Linked DNA regions of Homo sapiens: region 2 is linked to region 1. Evidence: fine-mapped expression QTL. Tissue or cell type: whole blood. Region 1 holds a variant in brackets; the other region holds the start of a gene. All regions are shown on one strand. Distances are between the middles of the regions.

What was found. PIP is the estimated chance that this variant, and not a neighbour inherited with it, causes the effect.
Region 2: RNASET2 starts here. The variant in region 1 is fine-mapped to the expression of RNASET2 in whole blood (TOPMed, PIP 0.95).

The regions. Positions count from the first base shown.
Region 1 is chr6:167,060,214-167,068,321 of GRCh38, reverse strand. No RefSeq gene overlaps it. Among named protein-coding and RNA genes, the nearest start is that of CCR6, 59 kb to the left of the region's middle. The variant G/A (reference allele first, on the strand shown) is at 4,437.
Region 2 is chr6:166,952,744-166,960,839 of GRCh38, reverse strand. It overlaps RNASET2 (ribonuclease T2), which reads left to right and starts at 4,290. Exons shown (of 9, transcript NM_003730.6): 1 at 4,290-4,743. The coding sequence starts at 4,658. RefSeq lists a cis regulatory region at 1,254-1,540, an enhancer at 2,221-2,340 and silencers at 3,305-3,354, 3,625-3,724, 3,765-4,524.

The DNA.
Region 1 (8,108 bases):
AACCAAACATTATATGTTCTCACTTATAAGCAGGAACTAAGCTATAAAGACGCAAAGGAATAAAATGATATAATGGACTTTGGGGACTTAGGGGAAAGGGTGGGAGAGGCTGAAGGATAACAGACTACACACTGGGTACAGTGTACATTGCTTGGATGATGGGTGCACCTTAATGTCAGAAATCATGACTAAATAACTTTTCCATGCAACCAAATACCACCTGTTCCCCCAAAACTATTAAAATAAAAAAATTTTTAAAGAATATTATCTTGTGATAATATTAAAATATTTAGTTATTTTCTGATTTAAAATTATGTGGGCAGAAACATACTTCATATTTTTCAGTTCTTTTAAATTGGTTAAGTGTCTTTTAATAACGTAAGATGTGCTCTGTGTATGTGACTATTCCATGTGCACCTGAAAAGCACGTTTATTCTGCTGTTGTTGGGTGAAGTGGTCCACAATTGTCAATATGGTCCAGCTGAATGGTGATGCTGTTTGCCTCTTCTTTATCCTTGCTGATTGTCTGCTTATGGTTCTATCAATTACTAAGCCAGGCATGTTGAAATATTCAACTATTATTGTGAATTCGTTCTTTACCTTCAATTTTGTCAGTTTTTCTTTTGTGCAATTTGAAGTTCTGTTGTTAGGTGTCTTCTTGGTGAACTGACACTTCTGTCATTAGGTAATGTCCCTTGTAATCCCTGGTAATTGTCTTTGCTCTGAAATCTATTTTGTCTGATACTAATCACCCAGCTTTCTTTTGATTTGTGTTTACACAGTATATCTTTTTCATCCTTTATTTTTTGCTTTTTTTTCTTTTTAGGGTTAGGTTTAACAACTTTATTGAGATATAATTTGTATACCATACAATTTCTTGGTCTTTTAAGTTGTCTTTCCACTTAAACTATACAATTCAGTGGGTTTTTTTGTTGTTGTTGTTTTGTTTTGTTTTTTGAGATGGAGTCTCGCCCTCTCACCCAGGCTGGAGTGCAATGGCACAATCTCAGCTCACTGCAACCTCAGCTTCCTGGGTTCATGCTATTATCCTGTCTCAGCCTCCCGAGTAGCTGGGATTACAGGTGCCTGCCACCACAGCACAGTAGCTCATGCCTGTGATCCTAGCACTTTGGGAGGCCGAGGCAGGTGGATCACTTGAGGTCAGGAGTTCGAGACCAGCCTGACCAACATATTGAAACCCTGTCTCTACTACAAATTCAGTGGGTTTTTAGGATATTCAGAGTTGTACAACCATCACCACAGTCAACTTTAGGACATTTTCATCTCAAAAAGAAACATCATACCCTTTAGCACTCATCAGCTCATCCTCACCCCCACCATTCCTAAGCAGCAATCACTAACCTACTTCCTGTCTCTATAGATTTACCTATTCTGGACTCTCATAGGAATGGATATATACATGTGGGCTTTGAGTTCCATCCAAGTTGTAGCATGTATCAGTAACTTATTCTTTTTTCTGGCCAAATAATGGATATACCACTTTTTTCATGCTTCATTTATAAACATTTGGGCTGTGTCCACCTTTGGCTATTATGAATAATGCTGCTATAAACATCCGTGCAGCAGTTATTTTGTGGTCATGCTATTTGTAAATGGAAAAAACACAAACTGTTTATTTTCTATATTCTCACAGCATAACTGCAATCAACACAGAAGACTTCTGTGACCAAATGTTGGAGGGTTTTCTCCACACACCAAGCAAGCAATCAGTTCTGCAGTGGGCTGGTGTCCTCCAATTCAATTCTGACTCTTCCTGGAGGTAGTGTCAGATCCCAAAGGTTGAGGGCTGAGTCCCAGAAAACTGTCACCACCTTCAGGCACCAGTCGCAGGTCTGGGCCTCTGGAACTTCTGACCAACCAGCTTTAAGTTGAGGTTCCCATGACCCTCTCTTTAAATTAGATAAATTGGCTAGAACAGCTCACAGGAGTCAGGGAAACACTTACTTACATTTACCAGTTTATTATAAAGGATATTACAAAAGACACAGATAAAGAGATGTATAGGTTGAGGTATGAGGAATGGGCTCAGAGCTTGCATGTCCTCCCCAGGTGCTCCACTCTTTAGGAACCTCCACATGCTAAGTGATTCAGAAGCTGTCCAAACCCTGTCCTTTTGTGTTTTTATGGAGGCTTCATTATGTAGACATTTTATTAAACTGTTGGCCACCGATGATCAACTTAACCTTCAGCCCCTCTCCCCTCCCTGGAGCTAGGAGTGAGCTGAAAGTTTCGACCTCCTAATTTTGCCTTGGTCTTTCTGTTAACCAGCCCCCATCCTGAAGCTACCTAGGAGAAGCCAACCATCAGCCAATCATTAGCATACAAAAAGACATCACTTTGGAGATACTAAGGATTTCAGAAGTTGTATGCCAGGAAATTGGATCAAATACCAAATGTATATTTCACAATATCACAATTTGTCTTCACAATTTGTCTTGGATATATAGCTATGAGTGGAATTACTTGGTCGTATGGTAACTCTATGTTTAATCATTTAAGGAACTGCTAAACTGTTTTCCAAAGTAGCTATGATATTTTTCATTCTCAGCAGCAGTGTAGGAGGGTTCTGATTTCTCCATATCCTTATCAGCATTTGTGATTATCTGACCTTTTCATTCTAGCCATCCTAGTGGATAGGAAGTTGTATTTGGTTGATTTGCATTTCCCTAATATTCAAGCATCTTTTCAAGTGCTTGTCGTCCATTTGTTTATCTTCTTTAGAGAAATCTATTCAGATATTTGCCCATTTTTCAACTGGATTATTTAGGGTTTATTATTATTGAGTTGCAAGAGTTGTTTATGTATTCTAGATGCATGTACCTTATTTGATTTACAAATATTCTCTACCATTCTTTGGGTTGTTCTTTTCATGTTTTTTCTTGATGTCCTTTGGGTCACAAAGATTTTAATTTTAATGAAGTCAAATTTATTTTTCTTTTGTTCCTCATGCTTTTGGTATCATATCTAAAAATCCTTTGCGAAATCCAAAGTCATAAAGATTTCTCTGTATGGTTTGTGATGGTTAATATTGAGTGTCAACTTGATTGGATTGAAGGATGCAAAGTATTGTTCTTGGGTGTGTCTGTGAGGGTGTTGCCAAAGGGGATTAACATTTGAGTCAGTGGATTGGGAAAGGCAGACCCACCCTCAATCTGAATGGGCACCATCTAATCTAAACACTGAGCTGTCAATATGGCACCATTCCTTGGGATGATCAGCCAGCTGGTTGGTGGCAGGTTGATTATACTGGCCATTTCCATCATGGAAAGGACAGCACTTTGTCCTCATCAGAATAGACACTTACCCTGGATACGGGTTTGCTTATCCTGCACACAATGCTTCTGCCAAAACTACCAACTGTGAACTCACAAAATGCTTTATTCACTGTGATGGTATTCCACACAGCATTGCACTCACTTTACAGCTAAAGAAGTGTGACAGTGGGCTCATGCTCATGGAATTCACTGGTCTTACCATGTTCCCCCTCATACTGAAGCAGCTGGATTAATAGAACAGTGGAATGGCCTTTTGAAGTCACAATTACAATGCCAACTAGGTGACAACAGTTTGCAGGGCCAGGACAAAGTTCTCCAGAAGGCTGTGTATGCTCTGAATCAGCATCCAATATATGGTACTGTTTCTCCCATAGCTGCAATTCACAAGTCTAGGAATCAAGGAGTGGAAGTGGAAGTGGCACCACTCACCATCACCCCTAGTGATCCACTAGCAAAATTTTTGCTTCCTGTTCCCACAGCATTACATCCTGCTGGCCTAGGAGTCTTAGTTCCACAAGAAGGAACACTGCCACCAGGAGACATAACAACAATTCCATTAAACTGGAAGTTAAGATTGCCACCTGGACACTTTGGGCTACTCCTACCTTTAAGTCAACAGGCTAAGAGAAGGGAGTTACAGTGTTGGCTGGGGTGACTGACTCGAACTATCAAGATGAAATTAGTCTACTATTAATTTCACTACTAATTTCACTCCACCGTGGAGGTAACGAAGAGTATGTGTGGAATACAGGAGATCCACTAGGGCATCTCTTAGTATTACCATGCCCTATGATTAAGGTCAATGGGAAACTACAACAGCCCAATCCAGGCAGGACTATAAATGGCTCAGACTCTTCAGGAATGAAGGTTTGGGTCACTCCACCAGGAAAAAAACCACGACCTCCTGAGGTGCTTGCTGAAGGCAAAGGGAATACAAAATGGGTAGTAGAAGAAGGTAGTCATCAATACCAGCTATGACCACATGACCAGCTGCAAAAACAAGGACTGTAATTGTCATGAGTATTTCCTCCTTCGTTAAGAACACGTTTGTGCATGTATACACTTGTACTAAGAAAATATCTTCATTGGCCGGGCGCGGTGACTCACGCCTGTATTCCCAGCACTTTGGGAGGCTGAGGC[G/A]GGTGGATCACGAGGTCAGGAGATCGAGACCATCCTGGCTAACATGGTGAAACCCTGTCTCTACTAAAAATATAAAAAAACTAGCCAGGTGTGGTGGTGGGTGCCTGTAGTCCCAGCTACTGGGGAGGCTGAGGCAGGAGAATGGCGTTAACCCGGGACGCAGAGCTTGCAGTGAGCCGAGATCGCGCCACTGCACTCCAGCCTGGGTGACAGAGCAAGACTCCATCTCAAAAAAAAAAAAAAAAAAAAAGAAAATATCTTCATTTTATTTCCTTTTTCCTTTAGTGACATAAGATTTATTGACTTCATATCAACATTTAAATGTTGTTAACTTTATGTAATAGCATTTGAATTGGGGATTGGTGTGTTTCTGGTTGTATGAAGGATGGTTGTATTATGTTAGGCATAATTATTATTACCTTATTATTGTCTTTATTTGCAGATTATGTATGATTTCAGGAGATGTGTATGGGTTCAAGTTGACAAGGGGTGGACTTGTGATGATTAATACTGAGTGTCAACTTGATTGGATTGAAGGAGGCAAAGTATTGTTCCTGGGTGTGTCTGTGAGCCTGTTGCCAAAGGAGATTAACATTTGAATCAGTTAATCAGTGAATCAGTGGGTCTGGGAAAGGCAGACCCACCCTCAATCTGGGTGGGCACAATCTAATCAGCTGCCAGCTCAGCCAGAATAAAAGCAGACAGAAGAATGTGAAAAAACTAGACTAGCTTACCCTCTGAGCCTACATCTTTCTTCCATGCTGGATACTCCCTGCTCTCAAACATCGGACTCCAAGTTCTTCAGCTTTGGGACTGGGATTGGCTTCCTTGCTCCTCGGTTTGCAGATGGGCTATTGTGGGACCTCACCTTGTAATTGTGTGAGTTAATGCTCCTTAATAAACTCCCCTTTACATCTACATCCATCCTATTAATTCTGTCCCTCTAGGGAACCCTAACTAATAGATTTCTTCTAAGAGTTTTAGTTTTTTTGTTTTACATTTAGATCTTTGATCTATTTTGAGTTAATTTTTTATACAGTGTGAGGTAAGGATCAAGCTTCATTCTTTGGATGTGACTATCCATTCCACCTAGTATAATTTGTTGAAAAGACTATTCTTTCCCCATTGAACGGTCCTGGAGCCTTTTTCAAAACTCAGTTGACCACAGATGTATGGATATACTTCCAGACTCTCAATTCCATTCCATTGATTTGTATTTCTATCTTTATGCCAGTACCACACTGTCTTGATTGATTGCTATCGCATTGTAGTAAATTTTTAAATCAGGAAGTATGAGTCCTAGTTTATTCTTCATTTTTAAGATTGTTTTGGCTATTGTGGATTCCCTGCAATTCTATATGAATTTCGAATCAGTTTGTCGATGTCTGCAAAAAATCTCTGTGATTCTGATAGGGATTGCTTTTAACCTGTGTAACGATTTGGGGAGTATTGTCATTTTAACAGTGTTATGTATTCTAATCCATGAATATGAAATATATTTCCTTTTGTTTAGATCTTTGATTTTTTCATTATGTTTTATAGTTCCAGAGTATAGTAAGTTTTGCAATTTTTATGTTAAATTTATTCTTAAGAATTTATTTTTGATGCTATCATAAACAAATATTTTTAATTACATTTTCAGATTGTTCATTGCAAATATGTAAAAATACACAATTGATTTTTGTATATTAATCTCATATCCTGCACCCGTGCTGAGCTTGTTAGTGCCAATAGTTTTTTTAAAGTGAATTCCTTAGACTATTATATATACAAGATCATAACATCTACAGTTTTATTTCTTTCTTTCCAAACTGATGGCTTTTTCTTTTTATTTTTGCCTAATTGCCCTGGCTAGAACTTCTAGAACAATGTTGTATATAAGTGAAGAGAGCGATCATCCTTGTCTTATTTCTCATCTTGAGGGAAAGCATCCATGTTTTCACAATTAAGGATAATAGTAGCAGTGAGTTTTTTATAGTTACCTTTTATCAGGTTGAGGAAGTTTTCTTCTATTCCTAGTTTCTTGAGTATTTATATTATGACAGAGTGTGGATTTTTCCAAATGTATTTTCTGCATCTTTTGAAATGATCATGTAATTTTTGTATTTATTCTGTTGTTATTATGCATTACATTAATTGATTTTTCAAATGTTGAATCAACTGTGCATTCCTGGGATAAAAATTCCACTTGGTCATGGTGGATATTTCCTTTTATATGCTGTTGGATTTGGTTTGCTAGTATTTGTTCATGATGTCTGCATCTATTCATAAGATATATTCATCTTTAGTTTTTATTTCTTATGAGGTTTTTGTCTGGTTTTGGTATCAGGGCAACTAGCCTCATAAAATGAATTGTAAAGTATTCCCTCCTCTTTTTTAAGAGAATTTGTAAAGAATTGGTGTTCATTTAAAAAAAAAAAAATTTAGTAGAATTCCGTGGTGAAACCACTTGATACAGGGCTTTACTTTGTGGGTAGATTTTTTGCTTAGCTATTCAATCTTGATTATTATAATTCTTTTTAGACTTTTGATATTTTCTTAAATCAGTTTTGGTAGTTTATATCTTTCTAGAAATCTTCCCACTTTATCTAAGTTATTTCATTGTTGATGTACAATTGCTGTCATATTCTTCCTTTACAACCCTTTGTATTTCTGTCAAGGTCAGAAATAATGTCTTCTCTTATTTCTGATGCTAGGAATGTGAATCTTCTCTTTTTCATGGCCAGTCTAGCTATAGGATTGTCAGTTTTGTTGGATTTTTTTCAAAGAACCAGTTTTTTAATTTTATTGATTTCCTCTATTGTCTTTCTATTCTCTATTTCATTATTTTTCATTTTAATCTTTATTTTCTTCATTTTGCTTGCTTTAGATTTAGTTTGCTCTTCTTTCCCCAGTGTCTTTAAGTGGAATATTAGCTTATTGATTTATTTTTTTCCTTCTTGATATAAGCATTTACAGCTATAAATTGTCCTCTAAGCCCTCATCTGCTTTCACTGGATTCCATAAGGTTGGTGTGTTTTATCTTCATTTTCATACATCTCCAAGTATTTTCTGATTTCCCTTTTGAGTTCTCCTTTGATCCATTGGTTATTTAGGAGTGTGTCTTTACATTTCTATATATTTGTGAGTTTCCCAGATTTTTTCCTGTTATTAATTTCCTATTTTATTCCAAAGTGACTGGAGAACATACTTTGTGTTATTTCTGTCCTTTTAAATATATTCAAGTTTGATTTTGGCCTAACATATAATCTATCCTGGAGAAGGTTTCGTGTATATATATAGAAAAATGAATATTTTGTTTTTGGCTAACGTGCTCTATAGATGTCTGTTAGCATTGATGTATTTGCCTTCAGGTTTACCATTTTGTTATTTGTTTTGTTTTATCTTCTGTTTTTCATTCTTGTTTTCTCTTTCCTACCTTCTTTCCAATTATACAAACATTTTGTAGCATACTATACTTATCTGTTGTATATTTAACTATGTATTTTTTCATAGTTTTAAAAGTGTTTACTCAAGGAATTACATTACACAGTTAACAAAATTTTCACAGTCTACTTAGAATCAATATTTTACCACTTCAAGTTAAATGGAGAAAGCTAAGCATCATATGGGTACCTTTATCTCTCATTGTTTTTACTTCTAACATGTATGACACCAATATGTGGGCTTTTT
Region 2 (8,096 bases), 110 kb after region 1:
AGTTAAGTCACACTTGAAGAACAAATTATATTGTGAGAAACACATGACTGGTCTTTTCTGTTTCTCTCCTGTCCTCCTTTTGTCATGGCCACAGCTCAGAATAAAAGAGTTCCACAAAATGTGTACCACAGTGGCCAGGCTGGCATGGCAAGGCCAGAGGTGCTGGGACACCCTGACCAACATGGTCAAACTCCGTCTCTACTAAAAACACAAAAATTAGCCGGACGTGGTGGCACACGCCTGTAATCCCAGCTACTCGGGAGGCTAGGGCAGGAGAATTGTTTGAGCCTGGGAGACGGAGGTTGCTGTGAGCCGAGATTGTGCCACTGACTGCACTCCAGCCTGGCTGACAGAGTGAGACTCTGTCTCAAAAAAAAAAAAAGAAAAAGAAAAAGAAGAGAAAGGGCAGGGAAACACCCAGCAGCTGGCCTCACTTTCTCAGCAAATAAGTAATTCAGGATGGAAAGGAGTTTTTAAGGTGAGATTCTTTCAAGTGTGACAAAGCTCTTTAGAGCATGAGAATCCTAAACTGTGTAGTTGTGCCACTGCTCTGCCATTGGAATGGCCAGCACCAGATATGGGCTGTTCCTACCGCCTGGGTTCCAGAGTGAAAAATACCGTGGACCACAGTGGCATCTGACGCATAGCCAGCATGGAATATGGGCAAATGAATGATAAATGATCAACTTCCGTTTAAGTGAGACACTGAGATTTGGGGGCGGTGTATTATTGTAGCATAACCCAGCAAAAGCTGGCATGGAAACAGGAAACCTGGAGCTAATGCCAAGAAGAGGTTGTGTGGTGAAAGTATCTTGGTCTCTTCAGAATTAACAAGGATTTAAGGATGTCTGTTCATAGACATGGCTGTTGCCATCCTGTCCCCCTCCCCTCTCCTAAGGACATGTTTCTATACAAGCCAGCAGCATCTTTTAAACCTCATAGTTTGTACCCTTTTACACTATGTTGTGTGAGTCAATGTAATTCCCACTCTGGCCCCTGCCCACCTGCTTGATGCTGGAGCCCTCTTTGTTTTCGTAAAGCTGGGCGGCTTCCAGACCCAAATCCAGCCTTTACAGCCACTGCCTCTTCCCTACGTAGGGTTCCGTTTAGGATCCTGGTAGGTGGACAAGTAGTGAACAAGACAGATGACAGATGCTCCAGGTTCACATCCAAGTTTTGGGGGGTTGAGAGCTTTTCCATTTGGATGTCCTTCTTTAAGAACAAGAAGGTAAAATTGTGAATACGGAATGAGATATGGGGTCTTGGTGGGGCCCATGCCAGCAAGGGGCCTGAAGCTCCTCATTAGCTTCCGATGTGGGGGTGGGGGAGTAGAAGTGGGCAGTACAGGAGGAAGTGACAAGAATTCTCAGGGGTGGGGAGAACTGTGTCGAAAATAAACAAGGAAGTGCAACAGGAAATGACTGGGTGGCTTCTTCAGGCTGGGTAGGACGCTGCTGAATTTATCTGATAAAAATCTCCTCTCTGTGAGTTGTGGAAAGTGGCTTGCTGCGAGAGACCCCCTTCTTCCCCACATAACATAGGTAAGAGTGATAGAAGTGATGCAGCTGGGCGCTGTCTCCAAAAAAAAAAAAAAAAAAAGGAAAAGTGACGGATGCTCCCCTCACTCCACCCCCTACCCATTACCTAGGACAAAGCCAGACACAGATCCTCCAATTCCCATTCTTCACCTCATCAATGATGAGCCAGTCAATAGAAATAACACACTTGTTAAGCAAACTTGGTGAGGCTCCTCTCTTCCCCCGAGGCTGAGGACTTTTGGCCTCATCTTAGCCTGAGTCAGTCCCCCCTGAGAACAGGCTGGCCACGGGGTCAACCTTCTCTGATCTAATGTCCTATGAAGGCAGGTTCTCATCCCACTTCTCCATTCCCAGTTCATTCTTTCTCTCTCTTTCTTTTTCTCTCTTTCTTCTTTCTTTCATTCATTCTTTTTGTTGTTGTTGTTGACCGAGTCTCACTCTGTCGCCCAGGCTGGAGTGCAGTGGCGCGATCTCGGCTCACTGCAACCTCTGCCTCCTGGGTTCAAGCGATTCTCCTGCCTCAGCCTCCAGAGTAGCTGGGATTGAGGGAAGAGAGAGACCCTCTCATATTGTTTTATATTGTTTTATACTCAGTACCTGTTTTAAGAAAAAAACAAGGAAGTGAAATCAAAGACAGGCAGCCCGGCGCCAGGCCCAAAACCGGACCTGGGCCTGCCTGGCCTAAACCTAGTAGTTAAAAATCAACTCATGACTTAGAGACCGATGTTATTCATAGATTCCAGACATTGTATAGAAGAACATTGTGAAACTCCCTGCCCTGTTCTGTTTCTCTCTGACCACCAGTGCATGCAGCCCGTCACGTACCCCTTGCTTGCTCAAATCAATCACGACCCTTTCATGTGAAATCTTTAATGTTGTGAGCCCTTAAAAGGGACAGAAATTGTGCATTCGGGGAGCTCGGATTTTAAGGCAGTAGCTTGCCGATGCTCCCAGCTGAATAAAGCCCTTCCTTCTATAGCTCGGTGTCTGAGAGGTTTTGTCTGCCGCTCCTCCTGCCACAGGATTACAGTCGCGTGCCACCCCCGCCCAGCAAATTTTTGTATTTTTAGTAGGGACAAAAGGCCCCCAGGCCCCTGCAATAATGGTCCTCATAACACCACTCCTCCCCGAGTCCAGATTTGCTTTATATTTGGCAGTGGTCACAACAGCCCTCCTTGACAAGGGGCTGTTTAAACACACCGGACTGTGATTTAAAGGAAAATGAGGATTCTGGGAAGCACTTTTGTTTTAAGAAAATTATTTTTTTAGCTTAAAAGAAAAGAGAAAAAGAACTGTGGCGTGTGCCTATATTCTTGAGAGGAAGGAATGAAAGGAGCCGGAAAGAAACAAATAAGTCGTTAGGGAAAAGGAGAACGAGAATAACACCATGACCTGTAGGAGGTCCTGGAGGAGCTAAGGAGGTGTCAGCCATTTTCCCCCCCCATCTGTTCCACAGGTGGCATTTTATTGAGCACCGACTGTCCCCCATCCACTGTGCTCAGTGGCAGGGACTCAAGGTGGGCAAAATAGACATGGGCCTTGCCTTGCAGTCTAGTGGGAAAAACAGATTAATCATTTAAATATTTTGTTTCAAAGAATGGTAATGCATGCAGGCAAGGTCCAGGCCTGTGGGAGAGCAGGCTACAGGCCCACCTGCTATTTAGACAGTTACCAGTGGCAGAGGACCCCGAGGAAGGCGCAGTTTACTCGACGTGTAAATAGGAATAGCCTTAACTAGCTGTGGGTGTGCGGACAGGGAAGGGAAAGAGGAGAAACATCTGCAGAGACAATGCCGGGTGCACAGCCCGTGGGCGGGGCCGCGGGTGCAGGGGAACCCGTGCCTCTGAAGGGCTGGGAAGGCCAGGGTGTTGGGGGAGGAGACCGGGCCTATGGGACTGGCCCTGGCTACGCCAAGGTGGGGCTGACATGAAGTCCCCTTCATCCGTGGGGGGTGGCCCGTCCCTCTGGGAGGGGATCCCTCACAAGATGACTTCCCAGGTCGCGCCCCGAGGCGGCTCTTTGCTGCCCCCACAGAGATGACTTCCGGGCTCCTGGGGCCCGCGGGGAGGGGCAGGTGAGGCCCAGGGCTGGGTGAGGGCCAGGCCCTTCTAGGAATGTTGGTGCTCCCAGCACCTAGCACCGGGAGACTGGAGAGGTTTCCAGGAGAGTGACCCGAGTAGGTCCCCTCCTAATTCTGGAGCCGTCCCTCGGGCTGCGCAGTGGAGCGCCGAGGTGGCGGGAGGCTGCGGGGAGCCTGGGCGGCCAAGCACCATCTGCAGTCAGGAGCTCCCGGGCAGCTTGCAGGGCGCAGTTTTTGAAAGCGGGTGCTGCGTGCGGACCGCGGGCCTGCAGGGTGCGCGGGTCGGGCTGGGGGCTGTCCCTGGAGAGTAGAGTGGCCCTGGGGCCCGCACGCCCACTTGCTGGCGGGGGATGGCGCAGACACGGGCGGTCCCCCCGAGGGCGGTCCTCACGGGTGGTCTAGGTTAGCTCGGACCCGGGAGTGTGGGAGTGGCGCAGAGCTGCGGGAAAAGGCGCGGGGCGCCTGCGTGGCGAAGGAACACAGCCGCCTGACACGCCCTCAAGGCCCGCGGAGCTGCTCCTGCCTCGGCCTCTCTGAGCCAACCACGGGGCGGGGCGTGAACGCCGGGCGGGGACGTGCCGTTCTGGGGGGCGTGTCCACCGGCGGGGGCGTGCCGTCCTGGGGGCGTGGCTCTCTGCTCCGGTGCAGGCCCGCAGGGCGCCCTGGGCTGGGAGCAACGCGACTGACCGTGGTCGTGGGCGGACGGCGGCTGCAGCGTGGAGGAGCTGGGGTCGCTGTGGGTCGCGAAGCAGAGCCCGGGACGTGCGCGCTTGGTGCACGATCCTGAAGGGGAGCTCCGAGGGGCCCGGGTCGCCAGGGCTGCTGCGGCCATTCCCGGAGCCCGGCGCGGGGCCCGCGAGATACTGGTTTAGGCCGTCCCAGGGCTCCGGGCGCACCCGGTGGCCGCTGCTGCAGCGGAGGGAGCGCGGCGGCGCGGGGGCTCGGAGACAGCGTTTCTCCCGGAAGTCTTCCTCGGGCAGCAGGTGGGAAGTGGGAGCCGGAGCGGCAGCTGGCAGCGTTCTCTCCGCAGGTCGGCACCATGCGCCCTGCAGCCCTGCGCGGGGCCCTGCTGGGCTGCCTCTGCCTGGCGTTGCTTTGCCTGGGCGGTGCGGACAAGCGCCTGCGGTGAGTTACCTTGCGAGGTAAAGTGGGGAGCGTGGGAGCCGGGCCCTAGAGCTTTCCACTGGGTGAAGGCTGCAGCTCTCGGGGTCGGCGGTCGCTGAGCCCCGGGCAGCGACTGGGGAGGGCGGGGGGAGCCGAGCACGCTCCGGGGTGACCCCTGGGAAGAAGTTGGGAAGTTGAGCACGCCTCGGGGTGACCCCTGGAGGGAGTGGGTTGGGGGGAGCCCTTAGCACACTCAGAAGTGACCTCTGGGAAGGAGTGCGATGAGGGGAGTCCTGAGCACGCCCCGGGGTGACCTCTGGGAAGGAGTGGGTTGGGGGGAGCCCTGGGCACGCTCTGGGGTGACTCCTGGGAAGAAGTGGGTTGGGGAGCCCTGAACACTCCCCGGGGTGACCCCTGGGAAGGAGTAGGGGGTAGGGTGAGGTCCTGGGTACACTCCAGCCTGGAGCTGGACTGGAAACTCATCCCACAGACTGCTCCCAGCCTAGGACGCGACAAAGCAGGTGGCAGGCTTGGTGGAGCACTGTTCCTGCACTCGAAGTTCTCTCAGAGGTCGAAGAAGTCGTGGAGGGGACACTTAATTTCAGCTTTCACTGCGGCGGGTGGTGAAACGACGGTTCTTCCTCTTTTTGAGTATCCTGTTCTGAATCCCTTCCCTTGGCTCGCCCTCCGCGTGTGTGTGTGTGTGCGCGTGTGTGTGTGCGCGTGTGTGTGTGTGCGTGTGCGTTTGTGTGTGCGTGTGTGTGTGCGTGCGTGTGCGTGTGCGTGCGTGCGTGTGTGTGCGTGTGTGTCGTGTGTGCGCGTCTGTGCGTGTGTGTCGTGTGTGCGCGTGTGTGTGTGTGCGTGTGTGCGTGTGTGTGCGTGCGTGCGTGTGTGCGCGTGTGTGCGTGCGTGTGTGCGTGCGTGTGTGCGTGTGTGTGTGTGGCAGCCGCCCAAATTAATTAGGGGTAAACAGGCGGTGCTGCAAAGAACTCCAACTTTAATTCTGTGGAAGATACCAATATTTGAATACCATATTATTTCTTTCTATTTGGGTAATGATCGGGTTAATAGGATTTCTTACTTACATAGTAGGTGTGGAAAAGGTGGGTTTTACTTATTTATTTTTTTTTAGACAGTCTTACTCTGTCACTCAGGCTGGAGTACAGTGGCGTGACCTCAGCTCACTGCAACCTCCACCTCCCGGGTTCAAGCGATTCTCCTGCCTCAGCCTCTGAGTAGGTGGGATTACAGATGCACACCACCACGCCTGGCTAATTTTTGTATTTTTAATAGCCAGGCTGGTCTCGAACTTCTGACCTCAGGTGATCCGCCCGCCTCGGCCTCCCAAAGTGCTGGGATTACAGGCGTGAGCCACTGCACCCGGCCAGGGTTTTACTTTTTAAACACCTTAGGTATATATTTTTAATCATGTACATTAAAATGTAGCATTATATTTCAGTGTTCCGGAAAGTGTATTTTCTGAAAAAGAGCTACATTTATGTCCTTATTTATTGGCCATGAGGTTCAGAGCCTCTCACTGGGGAAGTCTGTGGCATGCTGGCCCTTGCTGGCTGAGTGGAAACTGCTAGTTCACACCCAGGTGTGGGACCTTTGAGCTCTCTATGCCCCAGTTTCCTCATCTGTAAAGTAGAAATAGTAACAGTCAGCCTCACAGAGTTGGCTTCAGGAGAAATCAGTTAAGGTACAGAATGTAACTTGGAATGATGTCTGGCTGGAAGTAAACATTAGCATAAAACAGGCTGTCATATGTGGATCCCCCACCCCAGCCCATAATTCATGCAACTGATATGATCGGACAAACTTGAGCAGGCAAGATTTGCGAGAACATGGTTGATTCAGACCACGAGGGCTTCATAGGTCAGCGGGCATTTTCCCAAGTTCTAACTGGTTTTGAGACCTTGGTGATTTTTCTTTCTTCTTTGACTTTCTTTAGCTTCTCCATTACTTTCTCCGTGAATAGGGGAGGGGGGCATCTGTGTGGGAGGGGGTCTCCTGCAGTCACATCACTCTGCCTGGTTTTAGATGGAGAGTTTGTTACAAACGTCTGAGTCTTGGTAGTTTTGTTGTAAGCATATTGATAGTCTCATCTTCCTGGGTGTTGCTAAGCTTTCCAGCCTCAGGTTCCGACTATGTAAAATAAGGTTTTTCACCCAAGGGTAAAAAATGCTTTACCAGCTCCAATTCTCACCCTGCAGCTCATCCTTTTTTTTTTTTTTTGAGACAGGGTCTGGCTGTGTAGCCCAGGTTGGAGTGCAGTGATGTGATCTGGGCTCACTGCATCTTCCACCTCCTGGGCTTAAGCTATCCTCTTGCCTCAGCGCCTTCCAAGTAGCTGGGACTACAGGTTCATGCCACCACACCTGGCTAATTTTTGTAGAGACAGGGTTTCACCATGTTGCCCAGGCTGGTCTTGAACTCCTGAGCTCAAGCAATCCTCCTGCCTCTGCCTCCCAAAGTGCTGGGATTATAGGTGTGAGCCACCACGCTTGAACCCTTTTTTCCTTTTATACTGAGAGCTTGCATAATTAGTTCCAATGTACAACTAAGTTTTCATACCATCTTAACTGTAAATTCTATACAAATTCAACAGGACTCAATTATTTACAAAAGCTAATGTGTGACAACTTGATCTTCTTACTTGGAATCTTCCCTTCTAAAATTTGATTTATCCTGAAGTGTCTGCTTGACTTATATCCTGTGTTGCTGCTGGCTTTTTCCATGTGCATTTTTTGCAAGCTGCTCTTTTTACTTCAGTCTCGTTAAGTCTTGCAGTTCTGGCTAGAGGCCTACTGCCATGAATAAGCTGCCGCTCCACAGTGGCTTCTTTGAAGTCTTAGAGTCAGATGAGTTTCACGGTGTTCAGGTTTGTGATCCAGTGTGGCCCCAGGTTCTGGGTAACACGTGTGATGCAGTGCTGTGTGCATACCATGTCGTGAATAACATTCATGATGCAGTGCACATACCGTGTTCAAGTTAACAGTCCTGGTGGCATCTGAAGTAGCACCCTAAAATCAAATGACACAAATTCTGCAGAGAAGCAAGTGAAGTCTAAAAACTGAGTTGGGGTAGTAACGATAAATAGCGTTATGCTAGTTCAGGTTATGTTTTGTTGCCAAATGAATTACAAAAAACTACCAGGTTTCAGGCTTTTATGGGTTTCACGAATGCAGGGGAGGGATCGTGGGTCTGCATTTCTCTTGAGCATCCTTAGGAGAAAGGTGCTTCGTGGCTCAGTGGCTTCCCTTCAGTGAGGCCCTCCCTGGCTGCACTCCTAGCTTGCCCTGCCTCCGCTTCCCCTCCTCTCCCCTCCTCCCCTTATCCTATTCATGTTCTCCGCCACTCAGCACTGGACG